4 linked regions of the Homo sapiens genome follow. The protein of the gene in region 4 interacts with the protein of the main gene of each other region in a pairwise test. Each region holds a gene or a part of one and is shown on either strand. Other genes may lie near its edges.

The links. The genes of interacting proteins can lie anywhere in the genome.
Region 1: the proteins of SMAD9 (region 4) and ARHGAP9 interact in a two-hybrid assay, tested with the Homo sapiens proteins (one large-scale study listed by BioGRID and IntAct).
Region 2: the proteins of SMAD9 (region 4) and HEYL interact in a two-hybrid assay, tested with the Homo sapiens proteins (one large-scale study listed by BioGRID and IntAct).
Region 3: the proteins of SMAD9 (region 4) and VPS8 interact in a two-hybrid assay, tested with the Homo sapiens proteins (one large-scale study listed by BioGRID and IntAct).

What each region holds. Positions count from the first base shown.
Region 1 is NC_000012.12:57,473,418-57,476,866, forward strand, and holds part of ARHGAP9 (rho GTPase-activating protein 9), read right to left. Parts: exon of another isoform or gene 3,235-3,449; coding exon 3,173-3,234; intron 3,038-3,172; coding exon 2,947-3,037; intron 2,750-2,946; coding exon 2,654-2,749; intron 2,515-2,653; coding exon 2,416-2,514; coding exon of another isoform or gene 2,359-2,415; intron 2,199-2,358; coding exon 2,066-2,198; intron 1,982-2,065; coding exon 1,874-1,981; intron 1,557-1,873; coding exon 1,458-1,556; intron 1,287-1,457; coding exon 1,209-1,286; intron 1,060-1,208; coding exon 1,006-1,059; intron 760-1,005; coding exon 625-759; intron 292-624; coding exon 186-291; intron 1-185. UniProt on the Homo sapiens protein: GTPase activator for the Rho-type GTPases by converting them to an inactive GDP-bound state. Has a substantial GAP activity toward CDC42 and RAC1 and less toward RHOA. Has a role in regulating adhesion of hematopoietic cells to the extracellular matrix.
Region 2 is NC_000001.11:39,628,744-39,633,143, reverse strand, and holds part of HEYL (hairy/enhancer-of-split related with YRPW motif-like protein), read left to right. Parts: intron 1-128; exon of another isoform or gene 129-232; intron 233-428; coding exon 429-495; intron 496-1,564; coding exon 1,565-1,648; intron 1,649-2,835; coding exon 2,836-2,917; intron 2,918-4,400. UniProt on the Homo sapiens protein: Downstream effector of Notch signaling which may be required for cardiovascular development. Transcriptional repressor which binds preferentially to the canonical E box sequence 5'-CACGTG-3'.
Region 3 is NC_000003.12:185,049,635-185,054,004, forward strand, and holds the end of VPS8 (vacuolar protein sorting-associated protein 8 homolog), read left to right. Parts: intron 1-2,241; coding exon 2,242-2,391; 3' UTR 2,392-2,970; downstream 2,971-4,370. UniProt on the Homo sapiens protein: Plays a role in vesicle-mediated protein trafficking of the endocytic membrane transport pathway.
Region 4 is NC_000013.11:36,849,706-36,855,007, reverse strand, and holds part of SMAD9 (mothers against decapentaplegic homolog 9), read left to right. Parts: intron 1-1,332; coding exon 1,333-1,589; intron 1,590-2,490; coding exon of another isoform or gene 2,491-2,670; exon of another isoform or gene 2,671-5,302. UniProt on the Homo sapiens protein: Transcriptional modulator activated by BMP (bone morphogenetic proteins) type 1 receptor kinase. SMAD9 is a receptor-regulated SMAD (R-SMAD).

The sequences.
Region 1 (3,449 bases), on a different chromosome or scaffold from region 4:
TAAATAAAATAAAAAAATAAAGGTTTTGACTCTGGTAATATGCTCCTGCACAGAGGTTGCCTGCTTCCTCACCTGCCCATTAAACTTAGGTGCTTCCCTACCTTCACTCCACCTGCACAGAGTCCCTGTGGCATTCCCCACTCCACCTTTCCCCAGCATGAACAAAGAGGTTCTGTCTTCCTGACCTGCATAAATGCTCCAGGAGGTACCGTAGAGTGTCATGGTTGGGCTTTGGCATTGAGCCTATTAATTCTTGTATCTGAGAGAGGCACTGCTCTGATTCGGAGAGTGCTAGAGAGAGTGATGGGAAAGGCATGGTAGTAAGGTTAGGGAAGGTGCTAGGACAGGATGGGTAAATGCACTGCTCTTTCCCACAGGCATGGAAGACATCATTAATCTAGCACAGCTTTCTTTTTCACATAGCCCAACTATAGCCTCATAATTCTTTTCAATTCAGCCCTCTAAACATTCACAAAAAAGCAACTGGAGTAGGCACCTGAGTTGAACATTATTTTCCATCTCTAAAGTCAGAATGGGAAAGAAGAGTATAAGGGAACCTCTATTCTATTATTTACCACCCGTGTCCCCCACATCAAGGGTTCTTTCCAAAGCTCCAACCCTTACCAAGGGCAGCACGGAAATGGGGCAGCAGCAGTGGTGGCACCAGAGGCTGGGGCAGCTCCCGGAGAAAAAGCTTCAGGGCTCCGGTGACCACATGAATGTCATCCCACTCAGTACTGTCCAAATCTAACCGACCTTCTGGAGGGAGAAGGAGGTATAGGGGCTCATGAAGGGCCAGAAAGATTTAGAGACTGAGAGATTAGAAGTTCTGGAGAAATCCAGTCAAAGCAGACTATAGGAATGCCTAGAGGGTCTGCAGTGGGGCAAGGTAGCTAAGGTGGGGATGAGGACAACCCTCCCAGGAATAGTACATGGGGGTTTCCACGGGAAGCAAAGAGGATATGTGGAAGTTTTAGGGATCTGAAGGGTCTTCCATGTAAGTACCTTGTCCTGGCTGTTCTGGGAACACATACCTCCCATCGGAGGTGACCGCACGCTCTGCAACATGAATGAGGAGAGATCAGGAGCTAAGACATACACTTCCAGCCTGACGGCCTCTCTATTCTGCCAGCTTCCTCATGTAGGACCGCCCATGGTTCTCAGGCAAGACATTCTTAGTACAACCACTGGCCCACAAGCCTTCTCACCTCTGTCCACCAGAAAGCGAAGCTTCTGGACCACTGCCAAGTTCCCGCTCACCCGATAAATGCCATCCACATCTAGACCTGGGAGATGAGGAAGGAGTAGATAAGGACTGCTGCTTGAAAGTGTGTGTGGTGAGGGATATAAGGGTGGAGAGAAAAAGGGCAGTAGGAAGACTAGGTAGAATGGGGGAGGCAGAAAATTCTAGGCCTTAGCCTGTTGGAAGAGGATTCTGGGGTCTCTGAGAAAATGACCTCTTTTATCCACAGCAGCAATGCAGAGCCGCAAAAAGCTGGGCACCGTGTCTCCTTCCCGCTGGCAGAGTGATTCCAACTGGCAGCCGAACACCTGGTCTGGGGAAGTAGAGTGAGGCGGGAAGCCAGTGCCAGCGTCACTCACAGGAGCTCTTCTCAGCATAGGTCTTTATCCTTAAGTGAGGCTGGTCCTCCTGGCTGCCTGTGCCAGGCCTGGGCAAGGAAATACACTCCACCTCCCTTCCCCTGCTTCAAACAATCTGGCAAAGGGGTACAGGTCACCCCAGCTTCTCCCCTAAACAATCTGGGGTAGTGGGAAAGCAGCAGTCACAGAAGGTTGTGGTCTAGTTCTGGGAAGCTCTACTCTGAGCCTCGCTGGAGTTTTCTTATCCATGAACCTGGCCCAGCCCCCTCACCTCGGAGCAGACCCCGCTCCTGCAGGCTTTGTAAGGGCGGTCTCTTCGCGATGAGCCGCTTTAGTTTGTTGCGCACGCGGTTCTGCTCGGTGCCTTCGGGCCCCCGAACTGCAGGAGGCAGGTAGAGCGGGGCGTGAGCGCCCGGGAGCCTCGCTGCGCTCCCGGACTCTCCCTCCCCAGCCCGCGCCTCACTGGAGCTCCGGCGGCTGCTGAGGCGCAGCAGCGGCTTGGACACCAGCTCCGACTCCTCTTCTTCGTCCTCCCCGGCGCTCAGCTCCGCGGGTCCAGAGCCCGACAGACGCAGCTCCAGGGGGTTCTCCCGATCCTAGACCCGGGGCGGGCCGTGTCGAAGGTGAGAGAGGAGAGAAATCTGTATCCCTAGCTGGACTCTGACCCACTGCCGGGGTCCCACATCCCGGCCCAGGCAAGGGCTCTCCACTGAGCCCACCCTGCCCCCAACTGCTCCTGACTCCTATCGTTCCTACCCCACTCCCTTGGTCCCGGCCGGTCGGAGCCTCCCTCCGGGCCTCCACCCATCTAACCAGCCGCTCGATGACAGTCCGCAGCGCGCGGTGCCAGGCTCGCAGCTCTGTCTCGTGGTCCGACTGCAGCAGGAACTCGTGGCCAGGGATCGTGCGGATCTGAGGGCCAGGCAAGGAAACGCTCGGGTCAACGGGAAGGAGTATAATAAGCAGGGAGACCTAGCGGGAGGCCTGCGCGGGAGATTGGGGGCGCCCTCGGGTCGGGTGGGGCCTTGGGGACGCGCGGGAGGGCGCTCACGTGCAGGACGTTGCGGCGGCTGGACAGGTGGCGGCCGTGCGCCAGGGCCGCCCCGCGCAGGTCCACGCTACTTTCGGGCCGGCTACCCGCTGGTCCCTGACAATGAGGGAGGAAACTGAGGCCACGGTGTTGTTTCCTTCACTGCTTCCCTCTCCCCGGTGGGCTGTGAGGAGGTGGGAGGCTTCCTCACTTCTTTACTTTCCTCTGCACCGCCCTCCCCGCTGCCGCCCCCACATTGGCGTGAGGCGGTAGGCAGCGCCCGCACCCATCCTGCGCCTCTCGCTCACACTCACCCAGCCTGAGGAGGGCGCTGTCGGCGGTGGCTCTCGGTAGAACACCAGGCTGTTACCCGTTAACACCACCCAAGACGGGCCCCAGTTCTTCCTGCGGGGACAGAGAGGGGAGGTAGTGGTAGCGAACAGGTCATTCTAGAATGACACGAGGAGGGTGCTCTTCCAACACCCTGCTCTACCCTATGGAGTTGACAGCCCAGGCCCTAGCTGTATTCTGGGTTCTCACCTGAGCTTGCGCCCCCCTTGGGCAATCTTGGTCATGTTGAGCAGACCCGACTTTTCCACCTCCTGGGAAGTGGAGGGAATGGGATCTGTAAGTCACCCTCGCCCTCCATAGTGGCCACGGCTTTCCCTAGGGGGTCTCCCAGGAGTGAAGTCCCTTAAAGTTGCTGGGGGAGGGCTGGGTAGGAGGATATTCAGAAAGAGGAAGATGTTTATGTGGAGCAGGAAAAGGGGGGAGGGGGGGCAGGGAGGATCTTGGCCTTCACAAAGAAATGGGAGAT
Region 2 (4,400 bases), on a different chromosome or scaffold from region 4:
GCCCGTGGGAAGCAGCGGCATCTGCTCTTTCCACGCTCGTTCCCAGCGGCTCCCTCTGAAACCCAACCCGCCCGGCCCAGCCCCGCCGCCGCCGGCCAGTGCCCTCGCCCGCCCCGCCCCCGGGGATCGGGTTGCAGGAGCCGGAGCCACCGCGCCGCGGTACGCGGTTCCCCGACGGCCGCCGCGAGGGGCGAGGAGCGAGGAGCGAGGGGCGAAGGGCGAGGCCGAGCAGGTCCGGACCAAGAGCCCAAAGTGGGCCCAGAGTGCATGAGAGGACTTGACCCGGGTTGAAATGAGCCCCCAGGAAGAAGGGGAGAGCAAGCTGCTCCTTCTAGGCCCAGCCTGTGGCTCCTCCTGGCCCGAGGTCGGCCCAGGCCGGGGAGACTGTCCCCCAGCCCTGAAAAATCAGCTTTTCTTTTCCTTTCCAGCCAGATGGCCAGGCCGCTGTCCACCCCCAGCTCTTCGCAGATGCAAGCCAGGAAGAAACACAGAGGGGTGAGTGTCCGTCTCAGCCTCTGAGTTGACCAACAAAGGGTTGCCATGAATCCCCTGCAGTCTGGCGGCGGGGAGAACCCTAGGCAGAAATTTCACCATGAAGCTAACTGCTTGGGTTCAAATCCCGGCTCTGTCACTAGCTATCAGGGTGATTCCAGGCAAGCCTGTTAACCTCTCTGAGCCTGATTTGCTCCTTTGTGTAACTGGAATAATGAGAGGGCCCACCTCAAAGGGCTGCTTTACAGATTAAGTGCATTAATGTAATGCTCTAAACAATAGCAGACACACAATAGGCCATTATGATTGTTGTTCCTATCTTCTGTCTCCTCTCTGAGTCCAGAACTTTCATCCCCCTCAGTGTGCCGGGGTGGGGGAGGGGACAGAAGAAGGATCCCCACTTGCCGCTGTCATCTGTCCATCATGTTCAGCCCCACTTTCCTCCCAGGATGCAGCTGTGTTTCTGCACTGGGAGTCCAGACACCTGGGGTCTGGCAGAGAGCAGCCTGACACTCACTGACTGTAAGCCCTTAGGCAAACCACTTCCTTCCAGCCCTCATTTTCCTTATCTGTAAAATGGGGTCATATCTGTCCTGCTCCCGGTGTTCTGCTACCAGTATTGGAGGGAAGAATGAGAGTGTGTGGGTGGAAGGGCCCTGCAGCTAGAGAGAGCAACACGTGGGACTCCCCAAACCATCTCATGACCTCACAGATGACGGGGTCACCCTCCTGGCCCAGCACGGGCCTCCAGGGCCTGCTCCAGCACCGTGGCTGGTGTCCTCATTGTGATTGGCTGTGCCCTGCTGTACCAGTGGTTAAACATCTTGAATATCACCCCTATAGACCGAGACAAGAGATCTGAGTTGTACTCCCAGCTCTGCGCTTTCTTGCTGTGTGACCTTAAGCAAATCACTGTCCTTCTCTGGGCCTTGGTTTTCTCCACCATAAAGTAAGACTAGATTGATCTCCCTCACAAAAATACTGTGTGGGTAAATATGAGTTGATGACCATCAAGGCACTTTGGAAACTGTGATGACACACCTGTGAGTAACTTCTTGTCATGATTGTTTAGATCATAGAGAAACGGCGTCGAGACCGCATCAACAGTAGCCTTTCTGAATTGCGACGCTTGGTCCCCACTGCCTTTGAGAAACAGGTATGTGACATTGCTGATTGTGCTAGAGGAAATACTGTGTGGGTGGCAGATAAGGTTCGTTTCTCATGGCATCTCTTGTTGATTGGTAGCAGCTGCCTGAGATGCTGTGATCATTTACCAATATCTGTCACTGGCCAGGGTAAAAGGAATGGAAATTTATACTTAGGTGTCTCAGGTGTCTTTATGTCTATCATCCCATTGAATTGACTCCTCAAAATGATCCCAAAGGTTAGGGATTATTATGCCCATGGCACAGGTAAAGAAACTGAAGCACAGAGAGGTGAAGTAACTTACACCAGATCACGCAGCTAGTAAATAGCAGGGCACAGGACTGTGTGATTCTCAAGCCCTCATCCCTCTGCACTACAGACATTTCTAGAGTGACTTGAAAGTGGAAAAGGCTGCTCAGGGAGTGAGCACTCTACCATTGAGCATGTTAGGTGGGGGAACTACAGCGGGGAATCAGACAGTGGACTCAGCCTCAGAAATTCTCACCCTATGCACCAAGGCATAGGTCACGGGTCCTCTGCCTTCCTTTATGCTGGTGAGAACAAGTCAGTCATCCCACAGATGTTCACTAAAACCATCACAGGACCAGCCATGAACTAGACCTAGTATCTGCCCTCAAGGGACTCCCATGGAGCCTCTGATCTTCAGGCTTCACCTGGAAAGCTTAGGAAGCATTTCCCAAGAGAGAAAAGAGGAAGAACAAGTGGTCTGGGGATAAGATGATGAGCTAGATCTTGGGCACATTGAGTCTGAAGTTGGATTCCCTGAAGAGCTGGTTTAAGAGGCATTCTGAGGATGGTGGCTAAAGCCATGGAGGTGACAAGCCTCTCTGCAGGGAGCAGCAGAATGCGAAGTGACACAGAAGGGACAGTACTGTGTTAAGAGACGGCAGATCAAGAGGCATGGTGAAAGGAGAGCCCAGAAACAGTGGTGTCGTGCAAGTCAAGGGAGGAGTGGTTTCAGGAAAGATGATCGGCAGCTGTACAGTGGACAGATGGTCTGAGAGGAGAACTGAAAAGAATGTTCTAGATTTGGAGAACTTGGCCAAAGCAGAAGCCCATTTGCAGGCAGCAGTGGAGTGGGAGGAAGGTGAGAAAATCGAGACAGTGAGTGCTGATGACACCGCACAGCTACATGGTCAGCTGCAGGCTCCACCCTTCTGTCTTCTGTACCCGCAGGGCTCTTCCAAGCTGGAGAAAGCCGAGGTCTTGCAGATGACGGTGGATCACTTGAAAATGCTCCATGCCACTGGTGGGACAGGTACCCATGCTCTTCTCTTTCAGGCGTCATTCATACAACAAATATTTTGAGGCTGGGCCCTGGGGATATGCTGGTGAGCAAAGTCCACACGCTGCCCACTCTGAGGAGCTCAGTCAATGGAGGGAACATTTGCAAAGCTTCTCTCTCTCCTTTCAGCATCTCCCTCTCCACTTTCAGTGTCTCCATTTGTCGCAACCTTTTCCTCAGTTCAGCTCCCTCCAGTCTTAGACCTGGGAGGCGCTTTCTTCTGTAACAGACTGTTCCTATGGGTCCCACTCTTGTCCAACCCAGGACCTCATTAAGAATTCACCTGAATGAGCTAATTCTCACTGGGATCCCAATCTGACCCCCCTTAACCCAGGGAGGAGCCTGGTATCCTACCCACTGGTCTAGCCTTCTGGGCTACTGTGGGGTCCTTGGCAGAACTGGGGTGACATATCATGCTCACCACAGGTCTCAGGATTGTAGCAGGACACAAATTAACTCATTTTGTTATTTTAAGCCCATCAGTTACAATAAAGTAAGGGAACAGTGGCTTTAAAGACACTTCCAGACAAATAGAAATTCTGTCTACTCAAAGTTTCTCTGTGTATTTGGTGATTTCAAAATTGGGAAACCTTGAAAGCTCCACAGGCCTTGGCCACAAAGACCTAAGTTCCAGAGACCTAACTTACTGCTACAGAAGAGGACAGTAGCATTTTAAGTGGCCCATTCTGGTGCTTCTGAAGCCTCAGTGTATACCATTGTCACCTTGGGGCAGGCAGAATCAGGAGTCATCCCCCAGAGATTCTGAGGCAGTAGGTCTAGATTGAAGTTTAGGAGTTTGCAAGTTTAACAAGCCACCCAATTATCCTGGTGCAGGTGGTCCATTTGGGAACTTCTGCCAAAAAAAATGCATTGCTAAGAGTGGAGACTTCCATCTCTAATGAACCAATGGGGGAGATTCAAATTACATTTATGGTTATCCAGTGAAAAGAAAAGTAGTGACTAATATGTGGATATCATTTGACAGTTTTAAAATGCTTTCACTTGTGTTGTTTCATTTGATTCTCACAAGAACCTGCAAGATGGGGGTTAGTGTTACCACCATTTTCTGACTGTGAACTAATGGGAAGACAGAACTGTGGTTCACGGTATAGGCTTTAGATTTGAATCGGGCTCTACTGGTTACTAGCCGTATGACCTTAGACAAATGATTTAACCTCTCCCCTCCTCAGTTTCCTCATCTCTAAAATGGGAATAATTAGAGGGTTTTATGAGGATTAAATTAGATAACTTGATGAAATGCTTAGTAAGAATTCAGCAAATGTTAGAAAAAAACAGCGGGCCGGGCGCGGTGGCTCACGCCTGTAGTCCCAGCACTTTAGGAGGCCGAAACAGGCGGATCACAAGGTCAGGAGATCGAGACCATCCTGGCTAACACGGTGAAACCCCATCTCTACTAAAAATACAAAAAAAGAAATCAGCCGGGTGTGGTGGTGGG
Region 3 (4,370 bases), on a different chromosome or scaffold from region 4:
TGGATCTCCACCACCTAAAGAATGAGTCCAAACCCTACCATCTTCTTCACTCCCCAAATCACACCTCAATTCTAGGTGGTCCCATTTGTTCCTGAGCTTGTCTCGAGCTTGTGCAAACTGCTGTGTCCTCTGCTTCTCTACCTGGGCCCCCTTCACGCACTCCCCTTTCTTAGGCAGAACCTACTAGGTTACTTGGCAGCCGGAGGAAAGAGTGGTGCTCCTTCTTTGAGAGTTGGTGTGGGCAGAGGTTGTTATTCCAGGAAGTTTCTCTAGGGGTCTCCTGGATGCAGTCCAGCAGCTTTATTGAACTGGCCTCACCCCCATCCCTTTCCAGCCTCAGCTAAGCTCTGCCCCAGGAGTTGGGTTTCTGGGCCTTCCAAGGAGGTTCTTCTGCTTCAAACTGTTGAGCCCTTATTTAAGGCTCATTGATTTCCGGATCACAAAGTTACCAAAGTGGAACACAAAAATATCTGTTTTCCTGGGAAATAATTTTTTTTTTTTTTTTTTGCAATTGATCTTCCCACCTCACAGTGTCAGGATGTGAAAGCATTGAGTTGAGCGTCTGTGGCTCATTCTGTTCAAGGCATCGTACATAACAGTCATTGCAGAGAACGTCGCAGGCTGATGGGCAACTGAGAGGGTTACGGAAGAAGGAAGTGGCACGAAGTGGACTCTTGGCCCCTGGAGTAGTGCTTGAGTCAGAGTTACTGAGTTGTGAATGAGACCATACATGTGTCTCTGGGCCAGGACCTGGACCACTTTTGATAAATTGACACTTAGAACTTAGGGGCCTTCAGATGTCTTCCCAGTTACCACAGCCACTGGTACTGAGTTTTCCACAGAAGTGACACATGGACACGTGAGCTTGTGCCACCATTGCCTGTGTGAGGGAAAAACCCTTTGCCAGAGGTCGGAGGGCACCTCGAAGACATGGTGCCTGGCGGGTGAATCCCACACCGCCACTCACTGCTGGTGACCGAGGGCAAGTCACTGTGTTGTGAAGGATGAGAAATAACACACATGTCAAGGATCTAGCAAAGTGCCTGTCATGGAAAGACACTTGATACAGTCACCAGAGGTTGTTAGACATCCCCTCGGACTCCTGGAGTGTTTGGTAGACACAGACAGGGCTGCCCTGAGGAGTCTGATGGCCCCCTCGTCTCAGCTGTACACTCCCCATGGACCAGGCTTTCACTGGCCTCCATGTGAGCCTACACAGGGTCCCTTAGAGTGTTGGTAGTGGACACAGTGGCCCATCCCACAGGTCCCAACTACTGTTATTAGGGACCATTTTGACCTGGGCTCTGAGTTCTCCTTCACATTAGCTCTGTGGGGTGGAAGTTAACTCACAATGTTCTGGGAAGCAACAGGCAAAGACCCTAATCAGGCAGGAAGTCTAAGGACCTTGGGTGTAGAATTCGTCTCTCCTCTGACCATCAAGGGCACCTCAAGAGCCAGGCTGCCAGCTCCCTACTTTCGCAGAAAGCCTCTTTAGGTGAAAGGGATGGTCCCCCTGAGTGGCAGAGCACTGGCTTCCCAACAGGCCGACATTAGCATCTCCTCCTACCCTTCTGTCCTCCTTGGCAGGTCTTCCAGAATTGAGCCACTGACAGAACGAGGGTACTGCTAGTGTCATTGGTGGGAATAAGGAAGCTGGGAGCAAAGAGGACTCACTTGAAGGAGAAGGTAGAATCCAGGGGTTCCACTCTGGAACCCCTGAGTTTGAGTTGGCAGCTGGGTGTCTGTTTGAGGCCTTCCAGGTTACAGAAGAGAGGTCAGAGCCAGTGGTCATAATTAGTCATTCACCCCGAGGAGAGTGCACCAAGATGGAGAGGTTGGAACAAGCAGAGCTGAGAACAGAGCTCCTCAGCCCAGGGCGCGTCCACAGGGAGAGAAGGGTGGCAGCAGGGCCATCCACAGCAGCTGGAGGAGCCCTCAGCACAGGGCCAGCCCAGGGTGGGAGAGCTCTCCAGTGCCAGAGAGAGCACAGTTTGAGTGCCCTTGGGAGCAAACCAGTCCAGTCTCATTATTGAATGAGGAAATTTAGACCCTAAAAAATGAAGTGAACTTGCCCAAAGTCACACTGCTCGTTTGTGATATATGGACCTAAGATTCAAACCCTGCATGTTACTACTCCTGCAACACAGCACTGTCTCTCATGTATCTGAAGCAGTGGATTCAGGAGCCTCTCTTCCCTCTGCTCCCCACAAACCTTAGCTGATGTGTGTCCTTCCTTTGCAGCTGGCTCTCCTCACGGAACTCTCCCAGAATCGCAGCAGCGAGAGCTATAGGCCATTCAGTGGCTCGCAGAGTGCTCCTGCTTTCAACAGCATCTTCCAGAATGAGAACTTCCAGCTGCAGCTCATTCCTCCACCTGTGACTGAGGATTGATGACTCCATGGAGCCTGGCCCAGGAGAACCAGAGATGATCCCGAGGCAGCTGGGGAGAGGCCCCGCCTCTGGTGGGCTTGGCCTCCACCACCTCCCACGCTTCTGAGAAGAGGTTCCAAATTGGGCTTCTGTGCCCAGAGCGTCCACAGCACCATTCCCAGTGTAGACTCCCAGTCTTCTCCACATTGCTGTCATGGCGTCAGTTCACCAGACTCATTGATTTTGTTTTGCTTGTTAAGCAAAGGAATGTCACATACCTCTGTCCAGCTTTTTAGGAAATACATTTCGCCTATTGCGACTTTTTCCATTTACCCTGAAGCCTAGAAAGTAGGTGGAACTCACACAAATGGCATTCCAGAGTCTGCCATACTCCGTCTCCTCCAGCTGCTGGATAATACAGAGGAACTTCAACTTCTACAGGGAACAGTGGTTGGCCAGGCTGCAGTATAACTGAAGCATGCCTTGGAGAGAGCAGACACTGTGGGGGCCAGGGCCATCTCCCTTTAATGTGTTCATGTTAAAACCTATTTGAGTGTAAGACTTGCCCTTTCTAACAATAAATGCTCCGTGTTTAAGTTCTGCAGGTCTCCTGGCTGGCTGGCTCTCAGTCTGTCAAGTCATGGAGGACATTTCGAGCCCTGTTGTCACAATTTTATTAGCTCAAAGTCAGGAATCCTGCCTGTGACAACCCTCCTTAATTCAGATAAGCAGCTCCATTGTCAGCTGTATTCAGAGCAGCCCAGCCACCCATATGCTCCCGTGACAGGCGCTGGGCTGCCAAAGAGAATAGTACTCAGTTTTTGGCCATGGGACTTCGTATATCATTGAACCAACTGCCACAGGAGGTCGCCACACCCAGACACCTAGGTTTCCACCTTACATACTCAGATGATCCTTTTCTCAGTGCAATGGAATCGTCAGGCTCTCATGGACTGATACTAACCAAACCCACAGGAAATAGATACATAAACTAGGTAGAAATTTTTTTTTTTTTGAGACAGAGTTTCACTCTTGCTGCTCAGGCTGGAGTGCAGTGGTGCTGTCTTGGCTCACTGCAAGCTCCGTCTCCCAGGTTCAAGTGATTCTCTTGCCTCAGCTTCCCGAGTAGCTGGGATTACCGGCACCCACCACCACGCCCGGCTAATTTTTTAATTTTTGGTAGAGATGGGGTTTCACCATGTTGGCCAGGCTGGTCTCGAATTCCTGATCTCAGGTGATCCGCCTGCCTTGGCCTCCTAAAGTGCTGGGATTACAGGCATGAGCCACCACACCTGGCCAATAGAAATTTTTAACTCTTAAATAGAAAATAGATCTTGTTTCTGCCATGTACTACGTATAATCAACAAATCAGTTAACCTCTCTAAGCCTCTGTTTCTTTATAAACAGAACTGTTATGAAGAGGAAATAATACATGTAAACATTTGCTATGTGCCATTGAGGCACATGGCAAATACCCCAGAAATGCTAGCTTAGCTTTTATTATATAACTTCTCCCAAGACCTGGGCTACAAGGGTACTGCTTCCTGATGAAGGTGTCAGGAGATAAAATTGAGGGAAGTGGTTGAACCATTAAGTCATCATTGCTTGGATGCCTGCCGCAGCTATATGACAGTCTCAACCCCAGCTGACAGATGAGAAAGCTGAGGCTCAGAGGTGATAAGTAATTTCACCAAGGTAACCTACCAAAGAGGTAGCAGAGCAGGTGGAATTCAGAGTTGTGATTCCAGAGCCAGTGATGCTACCTGCCCCAAGTTATGTATCAAAAGGTTTCTCATTGAGCCTAAAATAAGGCCAAAGGAACTTGATGTTCTCAAAGCAAAACTCAATTATTCCTTTTCTTCTTTTATAGTGTAAAGAACTAAGGCAAAGGAGTATTCAATATAAAAAAGCAAATTGTGACATCAAAAACATGAAATGTATGTGGGAAGGGTGAAGTAAAAGCAGAACTTTATGCAATCAAAATAAAGTTGTAATAAGTT
Region 4 (5,302 bases):
AGCCTCAAGATGCTCTTTTGAACTTTAATTCCAAGAATATTAGATAAAGTGATGTAGGCTATATTTTGCTTATGAGTTTTTATATTACTGTATCTGAAAATGTAGAAATTTCACTTCACAAATCAAAATAGACATTATTTATATGATTTATATTAGTGGATGACAAATTTAATTGAAATAGATCTCTGAGGTATTTGTTAAGAGAAACAGATTTATAAGTATTGGTAAATTTTTTAAGTGTCTTTTATTGTTTCCTCTGAGGTAGGTTTAATATGTGCACTTAAGTTACATTTTCATGATATTAACTGTGTCCAGTTTTAAATTTTAAAATTTGTGGGCTGGGTGCAGTGGCTCATGCCTGTAATCCCAGCACTTTGGGAGGCCGAGGCGGGTGGATTACTTGAGGTTGGGAGTTTGAGACTAGCCTGGCCTGGCCAACATGGTGAAACCCCGTCTCTACTAAAAAACAAAAATTAGCCAGCTGTGTTGGCGGGCACCTGTAATCCTAGCTACTCAGGAGGCTGAGACAGGAGAATCACCTGAGCCCGGGAGGCAGAGGTTGCAGTGAGCTGAAATCGTGCCACTGCACTCCAGCCTAGGCGACAGAGCGAGACTCCGTCTCAAAAAAAAAAAAATAAAATTTGTGTATGTACAATGAAGGATTACTTGATTTTTTTGTGTGATATATTCACTTCATTTCTAATATTATAAAACCTTATTTTTGGAACAAATAAACAGGAATGATGGGAGGAATAGTATATGAGACCTTACTGACTGGTTCTTGGGAGTGATTGTTAACATGGGTTGCAATCCACTTTTATTTTTTTATTTTTATTTATTTATTTTTTTGAGATGACATCTTGCTCTGTCACCCAGGCTGGAGTTCAGTGGCGCTACCTTGGCTCACTGCAACCTCTGCCTCCCAGGTTCAAGCAATTCTCCTGCCTGAGCCTCCCGAGTAGCTGGGATTACAGGTGCCCACCACCATGCCTGGTTAATTTTTGTATTTTTAGTAGAGAAGGGGTTTCACTGTGTTGGCCAGGCTAGTCTTGAACTCCCGACCTCAAATGATCTGCCCACGTCGGGCTTCCAAAGTGCTGGGATTACAGGCGTGAGCCACCGCACCCAGCTGCGATCCACTTTTAAATGGATTTGTGGAAAAAGCACAGATTATCATTAAACTAAGCGGCATTTAGGTCACACATCTCATTCATCTGATCAGTGATCTGACAACCTGATGGGAGAGTCACATCTCCTAGGGTTTCAGGAATCAGTGGGAGAGGCACGCTATGAAAGGGCATGTGAAGGAAGGCTGTGTTTTTGTGTCTGCAGGTGTGCACTTGTACTACGTCGGGGGAGAGGTGTATGCCGAGTGCGTGAGTGACAGCAGCATCTTTGTGCAGAGCCGGAACTGCAACTATCAACACGGCTTCCACCCAGCTACCGTCTGCAAGATCCCCAGCGGCTGCAGCCTCAAGGTCTTCAACAACCAGCTCTTCGCTCAGCTCCTGGCCCAGTCAGTTCACCACGGCTTTGAAGTCGTGTATGAACTGACCAAGATGTGTACTATCCGGATGAGTTTTGTTAAGGTAAGGAGTGCTTGCTATCACGTTATAAAATGTTCAGTGAAAAACAAAACAAAAAAGCACCCTGACTGATGTGGCAGGCAGTTGTGCGGTCAATTCTGATAGACAAAACCAATTTATTATTATTATTATTTTTTGAGACGGAGTTTCACTCTGTCACACAGGCTGGAGTGCAGTGGCATGATCTTGGCTCACTGCAACCTCTGCCTCCCGGGTTCAAGCGATTTTCCTACCTCAGCCTCCCGGGTAGCTGGGACTACAGGCACGCACCACCACGCTTGGCTGATTTCTGTATTTTTAGTAGAGACAGGGTTTCACCATATTGGCCAGAGTGGTCTTGAACTCCTGACCTTGTGATCCTCCCATCTTGGCCTCCCAAAGTGCTGGGATTACAGGCGTGAGCCACCGCGCCCAGCCCAAAACCAATTTTTTTGAATTCTATTGTTTTTAGGAGGAGTTCCTCTTTGAGTATAAACTGTCTTGTTTAGCAATTATATGAAAATTGTTACACATTACTTTTGAGGAAAAACAAGGTGGCTATTTGATTGTTTTTAATGCAGATGATAAAGTAACAACAGTAATTTTACAGGACTAGTGCAACAGAGATTTTTTCCATCCTTCCAATTGCCAAGCACTGTTATCACTCAGTGAATGTTGGTGAATTTATCTGAATTCAGTAAGATACTCTCCTTACTCTTAGAAAGCATACAGGCACATGGAGGAGATAATATTTATGAATAAGCTACAAAAATAGGCAGGGTTGGTTCTAATACAAGATAATAAACTAAGTAGTGTTATAAAGGTATAAACAATTTGGAATAGAAACGGGTGTGATTAATTCAGAGAGCAGTATATGTTCTGTTGATGAATATTTGTTGAATTTCTCATATCGAATCTTATTAAGGTTGCTATGAAGGCTGGAGAACCAAGGAAGTTTCTTAGTGGGAAGGAAAGACAACTGGGTTTGTATATGGAAGTGAAAGCCTTCAGTTTCATCACCTGCTATTTTGTCTGTTGCAAAGTACTCGCAAATGAGTCTAGTATTTCAAAATATGGGCTTATCAAAGTATCGGGGTATGTGTGACAGTTTTCTTACTGCCATGATTCCATCCAGGGAATCAGCATGGCTTGTTCCAGGCATTTTTTTCAAAGTAAATTTTATTAGCACTTTAAAATTACCATGACAAATAATTTTTCTATACTCAAATTATGTTTTTATTATCACTTTAGTAATTATTTAAAAAGTAAGAACAATATAGTTTCCAATTTTAAAAAACAGCTGCTTGAAATTATTTCTCTTTCATGGTGACAAAGCAGTTTCATTCAAATTTAGTGTTTTGAAAGCATATATTATAAAGTTATATTAACAAATAACTTCGAAATCTTTTCAAATGTTCTGTTGCTTTAGAAACGGCAGAGGGCATCATTTGAATCATACAGTTTTTTTTTTTTCCGGGTCTGTGTTTTTAAAATTAGGATGAAATGCCAATATCTCATAGGTAATTATTTCACTCTGATTAAATATAAGCTTATATAGAAATCTGATTTTCCTAATAACTAGATACATTTCTCAGATAGGCAGCATTTACATTCATAAAGCTACACAATTGACACAGAAGACAAACTGTTCCTAATACTGCAGGAACTTTTAAAATAAATACATAGTAAATATAACTATAGATCATTTTTTTTTAACATTTGAGATGAGCAGCTGTAGCTACCACTGGGCTGATGGATCAGATCTCTTTAAGGTTTCTTTCAGCTCTGATTTTTACTGATTCTAGGACTTAGTCAGTCAACAAATGTTTATTGAGCACCTGCCATGTGCAGGCCAGGCACGTGGGACATGCCAATGTTTACTCACAGATCTCTGACCTCAGGGAACCAATATTCTAGGAAGGAGAGATGGATAATAAACAACAGCCAAAACACAGAAGAAGGATGGAAAGAGAAAGTCTGGGGGCAGGGTGAAGGGAATTGGAGCACGGGGGCAGTGGAGTCATCTGCACATGAGGGTGGGCCTCATTGAAAAGGTGACAGGTCAGCAGAGACTGGAAGGAGACATGGAGCTAGGCCCAGGGACCCCTGGAGGAAGAGCAGAAGAAGAGGGAAGAGCAAGGCAACAGCATACACCTGGAAACTCTGAAGAGCAGGCAGGCCAGTGTGGCTGGGGCCTAATGAGCAGGGGAAGTGAGATGAGAGCAGCCGCAGGGAACCATAGCAAGGCCTCCTGAACCTCTGCTACGAGTTCAGCGGTGACTGTAAGGAGGTGGCGAGCTTTTGCAGGGATCAGAGCAGAGCATTTTCATGATCTAACTTCTATTCTTAAAGGATCGCCCTGCCTGCTGTGTGGAGGATAGATATTATACAGGCAAGGTTGCAAGTAGGGAAACCACTTAGGAGGCTATAGTAATAGTCAGGTGAGAGTCGCCCCCACCTGGAGGGATCCAGTACAGCTGTGAGAAGTGGAAGGATTCTGAATTGTGAAGGCGGATCAGGCGTGGGAGAAAAAGAGGAAGATGAAGTTAGTTGCCTTCAATCAAGATGGAGAAGACGCAGGTGTAATTGAGATGTCCGTTGCATTCAAGTGGAGTTGCTGAGTAGCCAGTTCGATATAAGAGTCTGGATTCGGGGAGAGAGGTTTGGGCTTGAAATACAAATTTGGGAATTGTCTGCAAAGGGACCGTATTTAACTCCCTAAGTGTGGATGAGAACACCAAAGGTTTGAGTTTAAACTGAGAAGAGCCGGGCGTGGTGGCTCATGCCTGTAATCCCAGCACTTTGGGAGGCTAAGGTGGGTGGATTGCTTGAGGTCAGGAGTTCAAGACTAGCCTGGCCAACATGGCAAAACCCCATCTCTACTAAAAATACAAAAATTAGCCAGGCGTGGTGGCGCGTGCCTGTAATCTCAGCACTTGGGAGGCTTAGGCAGGAGAATCGCTTGAACCTCGGAGGCAGAGGTTGCAGTGAGCTGAGATCGCACCATTGCACTCCAGCCTGGGTGACAGAGCCAGACTCCATCTCAAAAAAATTAAAATAAATAAATAAGAAAGGGGGCTCTAGGACTGAGCCCTGGGACACTTCAACATTTAAAGATGGGACAGAAGGGACAGAATCAGCAAAGAAAACTGAGAAAGACCAACCAGTGAGGTAGTAATAAGACCAAGAAGTGTGGTGCTTTGGAAGCCGAGAAAAGACAGTGCATTGATGAGAGGATGTGATGAACTAAATCAAATGCTGCCCACATAACACAAAGGCTGAGAGCTGATCATTCATTTTAACAATATGAAGGCCTTTTTTGATCTTGACAAGAAAAGTTTTGTTGGCGGCTGGGGTGAGATGATGATCAGAATGGATTTAAGAGAGAATGGAAGGAGACAAATTGAGATGGCTAGTATGGATGACTCTTCTGAGGGTTTTTGCCAGAAATGGGATAAAAACATAGGGCAGTAGCTGGTGGGGGGTGGAGAAGTATCTTGAAGGTGGAAGACATTTCAGTGTGTTCATATGTTGACGGGAATGATATAGTAGACGCAAAAGATTGCAGGAGAGAAGGGGAAGATTTGCTGGAATGATGTCTCTGGGAAGGCAGGTCTGAGAGTGCATTAATGGGTGGACCAGCTTATTTGGAAACACAAATAATTAATCTGTGGTAAGAGGTAGAAAGGCCAAGTATGTGGATGCAGGTCCTGTGGAAACTTATTTCTGATGTATTC